Linked DNA regions of Homo sapiens: regions 1 and 2 are each linked to region 3. Evidence: fine-mapped expression QTL. A gene starts in region 3. Each other region holds a variant in brackets. All regions are shown on one strand. Distances are from middle to middle.

Evidence for each region. PIP is the estimated chance that this variant, and not a neighbour inherited with it, causes the effect. A credible set is the group of variants that fine-mapping cannot tell apart.
Region 1: its variant is the best candidate, but not a certain one, in a credible set for the expression of FBXL17 in whole blood (INTERVAL, PIP 0.80).
Region 2: its variant is the best candidate, but not a certain one, in a credible set for the expression of FBXL17 in anterior cingulate cortex (GTEx, PIP 0.55).

Annotation. Positions count from the first base shown.
Region 1 is chr5:108,242,228-108,247,573 of GRCh38, reverse strand. The region is part of intron 4 of FBXL17 (F-box and leucine rich repeat protein 17); the gene reads left to right. Among named protein-coding and RNA genes, the nearest start is that of FBXL17, 140 kb to the left of the region's middle. The variant T/G (reference allele first, on the strand shown) is at 2,866.
Region 2 is chr5:108,185,544-108,190,889 of GRCh38, reverse strand. It overlaps FBXL17 (F-box and leucine rich repeat protein 17), which reads left to right. Exons shown (of 9, transcript NM_001163315.3): 6 at 4,643-4,773. Among named protein-coding and RNA genes, the nearest start is that of FBXL17, 190 kb to the left of the region's middle. The variant G/A (reference allele first, on the strand shown) is at 2,400.
Region 3 is chr5:108,380,134-108,385,133 of GRCh38, reverse strand. FBXL17 (F-box and leucine rich repeat protein 17) reads left to right here and starts at 3,036. Exons shown (of 9, transcript NM_001163315.3): 1 at 3,036-4,435. The coding sequence starts at 3,443. RefSeq lists an enhancer at 2,666-2,785 and silencers at 2,886-3,135, 3,336-4,085, 4,106-4,185.

The sequences.
Region 1 (5,346 bases), 140 kb after region 3:
AGTTATGTCTTAACAATGATACCTTACATTTTTAGGAGAATGACCTTATTTATGAGAAAGCCTTAGCCTAATAATCTAATTTCCATTTTACAGATAATAAAACTGAGATACAGAAGGTTAAATAATGTGACCAACTGTTAATAGTGCTGTCTAGGGCAAAGCCAGAATTTGATACCTGCACTTTTTTATTCTCTCATATACTTTGTACATTCACATCTCTGGGCCCTTGTCCCTATTTTTTTTTTCTTTACAATGGTCCCTACCTCATTTCCATCTCTGGAATTATCTTTGGAAAGGCTCTCCTTTTGTATCCTCTATCTTCGTTTTATGTAGAACCAAATGGGAATCCAAATACATAAAACCAATTGCTTTCTCTTCTTCGAAGCCAGGGCAATTTTTACATAATCGTTTTAGCATTTATCTCATGTTATTGTGGATACTTGTGCACATTATCCCACCATCACTACCATTGCAAACACAGATATACTAGACAGGGCCTTTATTTTTTTGAAAGTGTGCATTACTATGTAGTTGGTGGTGAACATTTGTGAATTGAATTACATTTAATATTTACTCCCAGTCAGGCCCTCATTTCACTCATGTATACTCTGAATATAGTGAATTCCACAATATTAGGTAAGTACAAATTACCTAATATTTCAAGAGACTGAGTCTCCTCAACAAAACTAATCCAAATACATCATTGAGCAAATATATGCTTTTCTTGATGATTTTGTTTCTTAAATGAAATTCTGAAAATTTAGGTATTTCCTCCAGATTAACATATAATCTTTTCTATCTTTTGCCAAATTAACTGATTTAAAGCAATTTTACCAAGTTTATATTATGTGAATTCTTTACTTGCATTATCCTTGTTAATCCTTACAACTCAATGGGAGATGCCCTATGGCAATTCTGTTTACGAGATTATTAGAGTTAGCAGAGGTTAAGTATGTGACTGTTGGGTTGTGAAATGATTGATTCAAATCCAGTCCTTTTGACTCTGGATGCAAGTCTTAACCATCTGAAGTTGTAGAAACTGTTGTCTGCCCTTTTTTTATTTTTTTGAGACAGGGTCAGCTAGGGTGGAGTGCAGTGGCATGATCATGGCTTACTGCAACCTCAACCTCCTGGGCTCAAGTGATCCTTCCACCTCAGACTCCCAAGCACCTGGAACTACAGGTGTGCACAACCGTGCCCAGCTTGCTTGCTTGCCTGCTTATTTACTTATTTACTTTTGAGACAGGGTTTCACTATTTTGCCCAGGCTGGTCTTGAACTCCAAGGCTCAAGTGATCCTCCCACCTTGGCCTCCCAAAGTGTTGGGATAACAGGTGTGAGTCACCATGCCCAGCCTCTAGTGCTTGACAGTTTCTAATGTGTATCTTTTGAAATTATGAGGAGGGGGGAGAGATTTGTGCTGGGAGAGTAAAGAAGGACTCTAGGTATATGGCACCTCTTCCTTGTCCAACCTCTTGTACTTGATTTTAATTCCTGTAGTTAGAGGAAAAGGGCCAGAAACTGAAGAAACTGTGTGGGAGAGACAGACATTGTGAGGCACTGAGGTCCAAATCAAAGCACTGGATTGATTTAACTCATTCATGTATTCAATAAATATTTATTGAGTACTTACTGTCAGTCAGGCCCTGTGCTACTTACATATGTTAACTTGGACTTGGGTAGAAGAGTTATCATGAAAATACCCCAAAACTTCCTTTGACCCCTCCAGTTGGAGAGATGAGTATATGTCTTGATGTTGTACAATGTGAGCTCTGCCCTTTCTGACCTTCTAATTTAAAAAAGTTAAACAGATTTGTATAAAAGACTTCTTTTTTTCCTCTCTGCCAAAAGTGACAAAGAAAATGTCTTCTGTGCTTTCCTGTTACTAGCATGGTTTTCTTTGTAGAGTTTAAGTGTTTATGCCAAGGGGACTGAGTTACGATGGATGGTGGATTCTCCATCTTACTTCCCATTATTGGAGAACCTTATTTAAAGGAGGTGGGATTTTATAAGCTGTTTGAAGTGTAAGAAAGAACATTTAGTGAGCTGTGAATTTATTTGTCTGACATGATGAAAAATGTATAACCTAATTTTAGATTTTGTTTTTTGATGATCGGTTTTCTTGTTTAAGGAATGTTAACATGAATATGTAAGAAATGTTCTATATTCATACATCAGGGTGTTTGTTTTTTTTTAACAAGTAATTATTGTCTTCCATTTATGATTAAAATACAGATTATTAGGGCTTTATACCTTGGTTAGATTTTATTCATCTTGGGAAGCATTTTCTCCTGTTAAAATATTAAAGTCTAGTCTGAAATATTTTCACAAACACAGGTGACTTTTTGAAGGTCGTGCTCTTGCTTCTGTGCATTTTCTTTTTGCATATTATACATCAGACTTCCAGGGATGGGTATGTTCTTTGTTGTTATGGAATATTATACATTTAAATCAAGTCTATTCATATCTATATGAGTTAAATACCTTAGTGGAAACCTTCCTGATATATTTCCTTTACAAATAAGAAACTTCACTATTTTGCTTATTACTCAAGATTTTATATCTTTAAGACCATTACAAAGCCTAATTTTGAGTATATACACATTGTTCTGCTTTCCAGAGACTTTAACAACAGTAGAATATGCTGCCATATTCAAGTATCAAACAGTTATTTGGATACTTTCAAAAATTACCTATAATTTTAAATATATTGCAAAATACAGGTAAACCTGTTATATACAGTTAAACTTGTTACTGATATTTTACTAACTGGAAGTTTTGTTTAACTTGCACTTTTTCCCCCTGATGTATAACTTCAGCCTCATGAATAAATATAGAATAGGACAGTTTATGTATTGTTGTCATT[T/G]CTGTTTCTAATGGTTTGGAGAGTAGGTGCAACATGTCATAATGGAGATTTTCATTAAGTGATTTCTATTTTATCAAGTACAATGATATAAATAAGTTAGTGCCCAGTAGTGTTCAAAATGTCAGCTCCATGTAGATAGAGAAAGGAAGTGTTTGTACATTGAATAGTGGGTAGCCCTTGTTAAGCGCATTGTATAGTATACGCATGGCATGCAGGTCTTCTGAAGGAATTGTCACAAGAACCCCCTTAGGTTGGTATCTCATTTTCACACTTTTCAGATAATAACTTCCTTAAGGTCACGTAGCTAGTAAGAAGTGGAGCTGGATTGCAACCTAGACACACATTCCAGTAATTTCATAGGGTTATATAAACTTAAATTTCCTTTTGAGATAAATAAAAGTTTAATATTACTGATTTTAAATTAATATAAGAATTATACTTAAAATGCTTCCATATTATGACCAGCCAGTTAAGAAAGGATATGAGAATGGGCAAAAGGATTCAGAAGAAATATGAGGAAAAGAGAACTAGTAAATGGAGGTAGAGTGACAGATGGAAATGGAGAAAAGGTGTGAGGACAACAAATGGCATGGAGAAGAAAAGGTATTCAGGAAGAGGCTGAAGAATAAAAACACAGAAAGCAAAGTTACATAGGTAGGAAAAGAACCATAGACAGTTCGAAAGTCTAAATACATTGCCTTTATCATAGCTGGCTTTTCCCTGGTTTTGTGAATTTTAGCATGCCTTTTGAAATACTAACTAGCTCTGCCACTGCTCAGAGCTCTTCCACTGTTCTTTATATGTTACCCTTCTGAGACTTAAGTTCATCTCATCCTTTATGATTAGAGGATTCAGAATTCAAATTGTATATACTATTTCTGGTTTTTCTATTTTTGTATATAACACATGATATAGCCACACAATCAACTTTTGGTAAGTGATCTGTATGGTAGATTTAATTTAGCCTTCAGTAATACTCTTGTACATTTCTTTTTTAGTCTTTAACCGTATCTGTTAATTTAAATATCTTATTTAGAAATGAAATACAGTTTGACAAAACGGAAGAAGGTTTCTTTACTTTCAGAGAGTTAAAACACTTAACCAAATGATTAATTGTTTTTTGATGAAATACCTACTAGGCTCACGTATAATCTTGGGAAGATTACTTTAACTTCTCTCTTTCTTCATTTGTAAAACAGAAATTGCACCTGCCTGTTGATCTCAGTGAGCTACTGTACAAATGTGTATGTGTGTGACAAAAAGTGCTTTCTAAACATTACTGCTATACACACCTATGGCTGTTACATTAGTAGATTACTTTTTGAATTACCTTTTTCATTAATTAAAGATGGAACAGTCAGAGAATAAGCTGTTTCATTTGGATTATCTCAATATTAAATTGCAATAAATAAAAGCAATATTAGTCAAAGAAATTTGGTCAGCAAATTGAAGGAAAGTGGTTAGGTCGTATTTAACTTATCATAGGTCTTTTTAATAGGGACAGATCTCTGTGTCATTAGTTGTAGACCAATGTCTTTCTCTTTCACAATACTTTAACACATAACTTATCAATCTCTTTTTATCAGCCAATCTGACTTTTCCAAATCCAGCCTAGCACTAAGCAAGATAGAATGAACAAAAATCAGGGAAGTTCAAATAAACAATCGAATTATCAGATTCTCGTTGGATGCTAATAGAGTTTTAAATAGTTAGAAAATGATTAGCTATGAATTCCAAAGCCCTTGTTGACAAAGGGTCAGTTTTTATAAAGCTGTGGTAAAATTTTAATGAGATTTAAAAATCATTCAGTGTATTATTAGCTACATAAAACTATTCTTAGTTCCTTTTTCATAAGTTTCACATGAACATTTTTGCTGAATTTTTTTAGATATAATAATGGTATTATGGTTATGATTTTTAAAGAGACTTATCTTTTATAGATATATTAAAATACTTAAATGTGTTTTGGAAGTAGATGAAGCTGACCATGAAACAAAGTGAGCCATGAATTCGTAACTGTTGAAGCTAAAAGACTGTTAAATGGAGGTTTATTTCACTATTTTTGTCAACTTTCATTTTTTGTTTTTGAAATTTCTTATAATTAAAAGCTAAAATATTTCACTGCTTTGTGCTTCTAGTTTGCTTGATGAAATAATTACATAGGACTAATTTAAAGTCAGAGTTATAGGCCAGACACAGTGGCTTACACCTATAATCCGAGCACTTTTGGAGGCTGAGGTGGGAGGGTTGCTTGAGATTAGGACTTTGACACCAACCTGGGCAACATATCAAAAACTCATCCCTACAATGACAACAACAACAACAACAACAACAACAACAACAACAACAACAACAACAAACTAGCCAGGCATGGTGGCACCTGCCTTTAGTCCTAGCTGCTTGGGAGGCTGAGGCAGGAGGATTGCTGGAGTCTAGGAGTTCCAGGTTACAATGAGCTATTTCTCTCTTATTGTACTATCT
Region 2 (5,346 bases), 190 kb after region 3:
ACAGTATATTTCCAACAGTGATAAAAACTTTTTGGGTGTGGAGATCAAAAACGCCCTATAAAGAAAGCTAGCTGTAAAGACAATGTGGTTTAAAAAAATGGTGATTTTTAGGTAGAAAATAGAAGTGTGGGGGACAGTAATATGAGGATTATCAAATTTAAGAGTGACTCAGATCCTTGACACATACAAATTCATCTTTGCTCAATCAAAAACAAGAGAACTTGACCAGTGAAACCATTTTATCCACCTATCTAGCCCTAATGCAAAATCTTGTGAAAAATAAAACTTTAGGGAACATAAAAAGACAGTTAACCTGTGTTAAGATATATATGGAAGCATGTGACTATTGACAAGTATGAATTGAGTAAAAGCCAGAAGCTGTGCAAGTATTTTCATAAAGTGTTTCCATTAAACCCATCTTCCCATGAGTAAGGGTTGGTTTAAGAAATTTAGGAAGACCTCCCCACTTTCTAGATATCTCTGTCTGTCTCTGTCTCAGACTCTCTGTCTCTCTCTATTTCTCTTTCTTCTGACAAGAGTGGCCACATCAAAACTGACTGTTTTCTAGGAAGTATTTTCTTGGAAGCTGAAGACAAGCCTAGAGGAGAAGACTGAATGGACTAAGCCTCTCACTCTGTGCTTTTGTGAGCATAAGTATCTGAAGAGGGACAGAGAGCTTCAGCATTTAAAGTGGGCAAGGATATTCCCCTTGTCTTGAGTGAAGCCTGGCTTTTCTTCAGCAATACAACGTCACCGCAGCCCTCCTGCATTTGTTTTCTACTGATACACAACAAATTACTACAAGTTTAGCAGCTTAAAACAATGTACATTTATCATCTCACTAGTTCTGTGGGTCAGAAGACCAGACAGACATAGCTTAGCTGTGTCCTCTGCCTGGGGTTTCACAAGGCAATCAAGATCTCAACTGGGGCTGTATTTCTTTCTAAAGCTCAAGTCTTCTTACAAGCTCATGTAGTGGCTTGAAGAATTCAGTTCCTCGTGGTTGTAGAACTAACACCCTTATTTTCTTGCTGGCCCTCAGCCAGTGGCCAATCCCCAGAAGGCTCTCATAGTCTTTTTCACAGCACAGTTGCTTAGTTCTTCAGGACCAAGCAGGATAATTTCTCAGACCTCTAGATCCTTTGTAAGGGCTTAACTGATTATGTCAGGCCCACCTAGGATACTTTCCCTTTTGATTCATTCAGTGTCAACTAATCAGGAACCATAATTATAGCTGCTAAATCTCTTTGCTGTGTAAGGAGAATTTCCATCCTAATCGTGGGTCCTGTCCACACTCAAGGGGGCAGGGATTATGATAGAGCATAGGCCATTGGGATCATCTTAGAATTTTGCCTACCATACCTGTTTATTTTCTCACTGTGTTTCTCTCAGGGTCAGGAGGTGGGGGCAAAGATCCTCTTTGCTCTGCATAGCTGCTTTCAGACTATTATTTTCCGTCCTCTCATGAAAAATAACAACAAAAAAACACTGAGTCTGAGACTTGTGCTTTTTTTCTTACCATTGTCTCTTTCATTTTATTGCCATCCCATCCCATCCCATCCCATCCCATCCCATCCCATCCCATCCCATCCCATCCCATCCTATGAATTCTTCCAGCAACTACATGAGCTTGTAAGAGAACTTCAGCTCTAGAAAGAAATACAGCCCCAGTTGAGATCTTGATTGCCTTGCGAAACCCTAGGCAGAGGACACAGCTAAGCCATGTCTGGTCTCCTGACCCACAGAACTAGTGAGTTGATAAATGTACATAGCCATCTATCCTTCTGGTGTCTCCTGTTCATAAAAGATGTTGGCCTTCCATTTTGCTCCAAGCCCAGCCATGACTGTGGGTGATTTCAATTTCTGTGCCCACCACATGCAGATCACATATTGGAAAGGAAGAAAGCACAGCAAAGAGCGTTCATATCAGCCCTTTGTTCCCTTAGGTGAATTCTAGTGAGGTCAGAAAAGTTATAGAAACTTATTTGCTATTTATTTTGTATTTTATTTGTCTGTCTTTTTTATGTACCTTTAGATACTTAAAAAAAAAGCTACAATGAGAGGTAAGATATAGGAAACAGGCGCTATGTTTGCAGCAGAACTTTAGAGCCCAAACAGCTCACCTTTGAGCCCTGGGCTTAGTATTGATTATAATTATTTCAGTAAGGTGAACCTTGAGGAAGGGGAAACTGAGGGAGTTGACCAAGGTTCTGACTGGTCAGTTGCCTGAAGCTGCTGAGACAGCCAGAAAGGTCTGTTTTAACAAGAATGAGTCCGTTCCTGTGTGCTTTGGTTGCCAAGTACCAGTTATGTTCTGATGTTGCTAAAACCCTTAACCTGTGGTTATTGAATAGGAACTTTGTAAGAACCCATTTCTTTGCTTGACCTGCCTCTGTTCT[G/A]GAGCATCATTTTGCTGAGTCCCATACTAGACTGGACGTGACTTCCTTGAACATCTTACCTGATAAGCCAATTGCAGAGAGCTTTTCCTGAAGCTCTGCCTTTACTAATGCCTACAACCTAGCCCTTAGAAGAAGCTGGTACATACACTTTCTGTCTCAGTTAGAAAGAATTTACCTGCTGTTGTGGACCTTTTTGTGTTTTATCTGTCGCAGCTATCTCTATTTATCTCCATAGTTGGGCAGCATGCTTCAGAGAGCATTGAGTAGTGACTCTATGAACTCTCTCTGTATAGCTTCTCCCATTGGGAGCTGAGGTGGAAAGAGTGTGAGTACTGCCTGGCAATTTACCTCCTACCCTCCCAATGACCATTCTTTTGAGCTGTCCTGTCCACCAACACTGTAGCTGTTAGCCACATGCAGATATAAAAATTAAATACAAATTAATTAAAATTAAATAAAATTAAAAGTTCAGGTCCCCTGTCACACTGGTCACATTTTAGGTGCTCAGTAGGTACAAGTGATTAGTGATTACTATATCAGACAGCAGAAATATAGAACATTTTCATTGGAGATTCAAGTGTCTAGTCTTCTCTTGGAGTTTAAGCTGAACTGACTTAAATTCTCACATGCTTAGCAACTTAAAACAGTACCAGTTTATTATTTCACTATTCTGTAAGTTAGAAGCCTGTCTGACACAGGTCTCACCAGGCTAAATTCAAGGTGTCAGCTGGATTGTGTTTCTGAAGGGAGCATCTGTTTTCTTGCTCACTCCTACAGGTTTTTTGGCAGAATTAAATTCCTTAAGGTTGTAAGTCTGAGGTCCTTATCTCTTCCCGGCTGGCAGCTGAGGGCTGTTTCCAACTCTAAAGCTGCCCATGTTCCTTGACTCCTGGCCCCTTCCTCAATATTTGAAGCTAGTAAAGGTAGCTTGAATCCCTTTCATGATTGAAACATCTCCTGTTATCTTCCATTTCATCTCTCTGGCTTTCTCTGAGTAAGCCTGTGCTTATAAGGGTCTCCAGTGATTACACTGGGACTACTCAGATAACCTGGGATAATCTCCCCATCTTGAGATCCATACCTTTAATCACATCTGCAAAATCCCCTTTGCCTTATAAGGTAACATATTAGAGCATAGGTATCTTTGGTGGGAGGGGTATTTGTGTTATTTGGTCTATCATATGCCTCCAGATTAAGTTTTGCATATTATTAAGCAAAAATAGCTTAATATTTGAAAAGGTAGCTTATTTGAAGAGGATAATTAAGATCCTACCACCTTTATGTAAATATTATCATTAATTTGCTTTAGAGGCTAAACATCAGCGGAAGACAAGAAACTTAAAGAAATAGAAAATGAAAACATGGAGAAGGTGGAACCTGGAGAAATTTTTGCTTCTTAAGCCACATTTTATATCATTTTATGATGAAACACATACCCATAATAGTACAGTTTGGAGTACATTGATAATATATCACCAAGCTATCTCTGAATTAACCATTTAGTCATATTTCATCTTTAAAAAAATAAAAAAATCTATACAGAAATGGCATAATTATGAAGGTAATATCTGAAATTGAACAATGTTAGAATAATCTTCTCAAATTGTAGGTACTTAATGTAATATATTCAATACCTTGCCTACCTATTAGACAATAGATTGCTAACTTGATTTTTAGGATACTTAAGTAAAATCTACTTTCTTTTTTTTTTTTTTCTTTTTTTGATACGCAGTCTCACTCTGTTGCCAGGCTGGAGTGCAGTGATGCGATCTGGGCTCACTGCAACCTCTGCCTCCCGGGTTCAAGAATTCCCCTGCCTCAGCCTCCCAAGTAGCTGGGATTACAGGGATGCACCACTACGCCCAGCTAATTTTTTGTATTTTAGTAGAGATGGGGTTTCACCATGTTGGCCAAGATGGTCTTGATCTCCTTACCTCGTGATCCACCCGCCTCAGCTTCCCAAAGTGCTGGGATTACAGATGTGAGCCACCGCGCCTGGCCAAATCTACTTTCTTTTAATGTTTGTTGCCATTCAGATATTCACCATAGATTTCTATACTACACTCATGCTTAATTTAGTGTATAAAATATTACATATACAATATCTTTAATTAAAAGATTCTAGCCTATCTGTTTTAAATATTTTACAGTGATACTCTACCTTGTAATAAACTACATTTGTAAGTTTTGAGAGTGAATGTAGCATTTACCTTTTTCATCTTTCATTTTATTTATCTCATTAGCTAAGAAACCTTTCCAGCTTGGACCTACGTCATATCACTGAACTGGATAATGAAACCGTGATGGAAATTGTCAAGAGGTGCAAAAATCTTAGCTCTCTCAATCTCTGTCTGAACTGGATCATAAATGACAGGTAACCATTGTAACATGTTAAAAATACTTTTCTAGAGGAAAACATTTAGGAAATATTAATTATTATAACAAGGCATGTCTATAACTAAAATTGAATACAGCTGTGCCTTTTCAAATTGTTATGTTTAAGTTTTGAAAACCATCTAGATCTATACTTTTAATGCATCTGTTGCTTATAAGTGCAGCAAAGTTTTTAGGTGCTTTAATACAAATATTTGCCTCAACAATTGTAACAATAGTAGGCTGTTGAATTTTTTCTTTGTTATCCATCTAAGACATACCTGCTTTTTGCCATGCTTGTAAGTTTGTAATGATATATTATTTGTCACTTTAACATTTTTGCAACATTTGTGGTTGATTTTAATGATTTGGAGAAACCATCTGAAACATTAACATTTAAACCCTTTCTTAAAGGTGACATTTTTTTTTCAGAGATGGAGTCTCACAGTGTTTCCTAGGTACAATTCCTGGGCTCAAGCAATACTTCTGCCTCAGCCTCCCAAGCAGCTGGGACTACAGGCATACACCACTGCGCCTATATTAGCCCATTCTAGCATTACCATAAAGAACTACC
Region 3 (5,000 bases):
AACCAGAATGTTTGGTCATTTTTGTGGTTTAGAGACTGTTCTTGTATTTGCTGTGTTCAGACATGATTGTGGAGGGGTCTTATTTTTGTCTTGCCTATTGTAGTCATAAAATGACTATAACTGATGTTGATGTTTTGTGGGACTGTTTATATTTGACAAAACAATGAGAACTGAGAATGCCAGGACAGCTGCCAGTACCACAAATGCCTAGCTAATAGTGCCAGTCCAGCTCCTGGCTGTCCGGAGTTGGTTTCCACTGCAACTCCACCCTCTCTGCCCCCCAACTAGCAAAGCCATCAGCTGCTACAACTGTCTCTATAATTCTAATTTATGACTCTTATTCATAATTCTGTATCTTTAACATTTACAACATTAGTATTATTATTTAGGGTACTGAGTTCCAAAACTCATTACAGCTCTCCTGATAATAGTAGTAGCTTATTTAATCACTGATGAACTATACAAGACTCTCTCTGCTATTTGCTGTGGTAAAGAAATAAAAAGAAGGGTTAGAGATAATCCTAAGCCTCAAAGAATCTGAAATTTTTTCTGGGGAGAACTAGTGGTGTGATGATGGTGGGTGATGAGAACAGACATGCAAAATATCTAAATTATAAAAAAACAAGTATCTTTTGTCAGCACAGAGTCCAATAGGTAGACCAAAGACAATTTGCTTGTGGTTGAATGGTTTAGGAACTGGGAGTAAGGAAACAAATATTGTAAATTTTAGCAACGACTTCAGAACTCTCAGAGTCAGTTGCTTCATCTCTAAAAACAAGAAGTTGAAGTTGGATGGTATGTGTAGTTCTGATACATTTGCATGGTGCCAGGCTGTCTGTACAGGAATCACATAGGGAGCCTGTTACCAGGTAGCGATTCGAGGGCCCCGTATCCAGAAAGCATAAAACATCCTAACTTTTTGAGATTCATCCATGCTTTTTCTCTTGTGTTGCTGAGTAGTATTTAATTAGATGAATATATCAGTTTATTAATCCGTTCTCCCACTGATGGACATCTGGGCAGTTTATAGTTTTTGGTGACCATGAATAAAGTTGTTACGGACATTTTTGTACATGTCTTTTTATCGATATATGCTTTTATTTCTCTGGATAAATACCTAGATGTGGGATTGCTGGCTCATAGGGAAGATGTGTATTTAACTTATATGAAATGTATAGGTCGCAATTTTTTTTAAGAGACTGTGTTTCGCTACGCTGCTCAAGATGGACTACGGTGGCTATTCACATGCATAATCATAACAAGCTGGGCTTAAGCGATCCTCACGCCTCACCAGCCCTGTTGTAGTTTGAATGATAGGTACCACCACATCTGGCTCTGACAGGTTCATATTTTTGACATAAAGTTACAAAACACTTTATAATACTCTTGCCTTTTGTGAAAGTGCAGCCTAGTAGAGATGTCAAAGGATCTGTAATAAGTCCTCAAGCACTGCTCTGGGGCCCTGGAAGATTCTCCTACAGGCAAATGGATGAAAGTTATGTGGATTATATGTGTACGTAAATGTCGTTCAGGCAATGCATTTGATAGTGAATAGCGTGTATGTCTGTGAAATCTTTTGACAAATATTTGCTTCTAGAATTCCACATAACTGTCATTAGGCTCTGAAAGGATCCCTGAATGTGACAGACTTAAGATTGGTCATTTCTGACAAAAAGGCCAGAATTAACAATTGTTTGACAGCATGTTTGAGAGCAGGCTGGGTGGGGCTGGCCACTATAGTGGGAATAGCAATGTAGGTTCCAACAGTGGTCTTCTCCAAGCCACTGGGCCTTGAATATTGCAATACTTCTTCCTCAGTCAGCTCTCTCAAGTTATCCTTAGCAGATTTTTTTTTAAACACCTGCCACTTCTCTTCCACCCTTCAGCAGGTAACCAAGCTCTATCTGAAGCAAAACAGAAACCAACAGAAAGGAACTCTTTCACCTTCCTGCTAGAAACATCCACCTCTCTGTATCCGTCCTTTATCTACCTTTCCTCATTCTCTGTAATCACAATGAAGAAAGTATCCTTCCTAAAGCACTCTCCATTCCACCTTCTCCTCTTATTTCTCTCACTAGAGTGGCTCATTCCCATGGTATTTGCCTCCTCTAATTTTTCGCTTGTGAAAGCTAACCTCTCCGCACCAGGTACCGCTCTAGCAGCTGCCCTAGCTCTTTAGCCTCGATATAGTCAAACCTTCTAAAGGACTGCCTGCATAGCTGTTTCCTCTTTCTCATCTGGATCACCAACGTTTGTCATATAGCAGGCACTGCACCGTCATGTTTAAAATATACAACAGACGGCTAGACAGGATTCCGAGGGTGTAGACAATAAAGTGATCTACAGTTTGTAGCCTGGGTGTTGAATGGCTCACTGGGTGGGGAAGCTGTTATCTTTCTGCTGTGCACAGGTAATTTGATATATGCTTTCATTCTGAAATAAAGTTGTGGAAAGGCAGTAGTACGCAACAATTAAGAAAACACAAGTGGGTAAACAGTGGTGCCGCACAACCAATCAACCCCTCACATGACTTCGGTGCGCATCACCCAGGGGCCGCATCTGCCACTCTGCCCGAAGCGCGGTCAGCGCCCACACTGGCCCTTCCGGCGGAACCCGCCTCGCGGCTTCGAAGTGGCCTCGGTTTCCGAGTCAGGGGTGGTGACAGGGGTGGAAGGTGAGGGGAAGAGCCCAGCGGCTCCCGGCCAATGGCAGCTCTTGAACTTACACCTCGAGACGTCAGCGCGGCTGTGTAAACGGATGTCACACAGCTGGCTCGGAAGTGTCTCCTCCCGCCTCAGAAACGCGGCGCACGCCCAGCAGCTTCGGAAAAACCTTAGGCGGTGGGAGGGAGGGGCGTGCGCCGCACCCCGCAAGCCCAGAGCTCCGTGCCCTAGCCGGCCGGCTTCTTCCCGTAGTGCCGGTGTGACGGCCGTCCCGGGTGAGCAGCCGGGTGCCGGCGTCCCCGCCACGAGCGCGCCACCGCAACTGGCTCCGCCCCCTGCCGGAACGGGCCGCGCGCTCCTGCGGCTCCGAGCAGAGTCGCGGGTGCGCGCGCCGGCGGCGGATCCGCAGTTAAAATGGTCCGAGCGGGACCCGGCCTTTCCCCGGCCGCTCCGCTGACTGACTGAGCCGGCTGGCCGGGCCCGGACTGGTCGCCTAGCCGGCAGGCTCGCTCGCTCCCTCCCTCGCGTCCCCAAAGCTCGCGCCCATCGTTCTCCCGGCTTCCCTGGGCAAAGCATGTAGCCCCCGTCGGGCACTCCGGCGGCCCGCAGCTGACGCCCACCCCCCACCGTCGCGTGTGTGCCCGTGTGTGCGTGTGTGTGCGCAGGAAGGGCGACCCCTCCGGGGGCCGAGCCAGCGAGCGGCCTGCCCCGCTGCCGGGAGCCCGCCTCTCTGGGTCTCCCTCCCTCCCGTCCCGGTCCCCCTCCTCGGGGCCTTCTATATGGGCCACCTTCTCTCGAAGGAGCCGCGTAACCGCCCGAGCCAGAAGAGGCCTCGCTGTTGCAGTTGGTGCCGCCGCCGGCGCCCTCTCCTCAGGCTGCCCCGCCGGACCCCAGCCAAGGTGCCCCCTCAGCCGGCGGCGCCCCGGAGCCGGGACTGCTTCTTCCGCGGGCCCTGCATGCTCTGCTTCATCGTGCACAGTCCCGGCGCGCCCGCCCCCGCCGGCCCAGAGGAGGAGCCGCCGCTCTCGCCGCCGCCGCGGGACGGGGCCTACGCTGCCGCCTCCTCCTCTCAGCACCTGGCGCGGCGCTACGCGGCCCTGGCCGCCGAGGACTGCGCCGCTGCTGCCCGCCGCTTCCTGCTATCCTCGGCCGCCGCCGCCGCCGCCGCTGCCGCCTCGGCTTCGTCGCCCGCCTCCTGCTGCAAAGAGTTGGGGCTGGCTGCGGCCGCCGCCTGGGAGCAGCAGGGCCGAAGTCTCTTCCTGGCCAGCTTGGGGCCGGTGCGCTTCCTGGGGCCGCCCGCCGCCGTGCAGCTCTTCCGGGGGCCGACACCGTCACCGGCCGAGCTCCCTACGCCCCCCGAAATGGTGTGCAAGCGGAAGGGGGCCGGGGTCCCCGCCTGCACCCCCTGCAAGCAGCCCCGCTGCGGCGGCGGGGGCTGCGGCGGCGGCGGCGGCGGCGGTGGCGGGGGAGGGCCTGCGGGGGGAGGCGCTTCGCCGCCCCGGCCCCCCGACGCCGGCTGCTGCCAGGCCCCGGAGCAGCCCCCGCAGCCGCTCTGCCCTCCGCCCTCTTCTCCCACCTCCGAAGGTGCCCCCACCGAAGCTGGCGGGGACGCTGTCCGAGCCGGGGGCACCGCCCCCTTGTCCGCCCAGCAGCAGCATGAATGTGGCGACGCGGACTGTCGGGAGTCCCCCGAAAACCCCTGCGACTGTCACAGGGAGCCGCCCCCCGAAACCCCAGACATCAACCAGCTGCCGCCGTCCATCCTGCTCAAGGTGGGTCTGGGCGAGAGGCGCAGGGATGCTCGCTTTCCCCCACCCCCGGCCCCCGCCTCCGAGGCTTTCTCTCTCCTCCCCCTAAGCGCGGAGGAGGGGGGTTCCCTGGCAGCCTAGGGACGTCCCAAGGGGAGACTGGGAAGCCAGTGGGGCCTCTGCCTATGGCCTATTTTTTGAAGTAGGAGCACTTGGAGTCTACTGAATGTCTTTTAATAGCTTGACTCTATAACCCACCATTCAGGGTTCAGCTATTATTAGAATCCCAACCCAGTGGTTTAGAAACTTCGCAGGTATTCTGTGGAAAAAAAAATTTTTTAATCGAGGAATTTATACTTAGTGGGTAAAGGCTTTGCATGTTGGTGTTTGAAAGTCTTTAAACATTACTTTCATGTTTGATGGCTGGTAGTTAATGTCAAACGGTTAACTTACTGAGCATTTACCATAATCAGGCACTGCGCCAGACTTTATATATATAATATCCCATTTATCTAGTTAACGCTTCGAGATAAATACTGTTAATATCTTTATTTTATACAGGAAGAAACTGATTTCTCCGTGCTGTGGG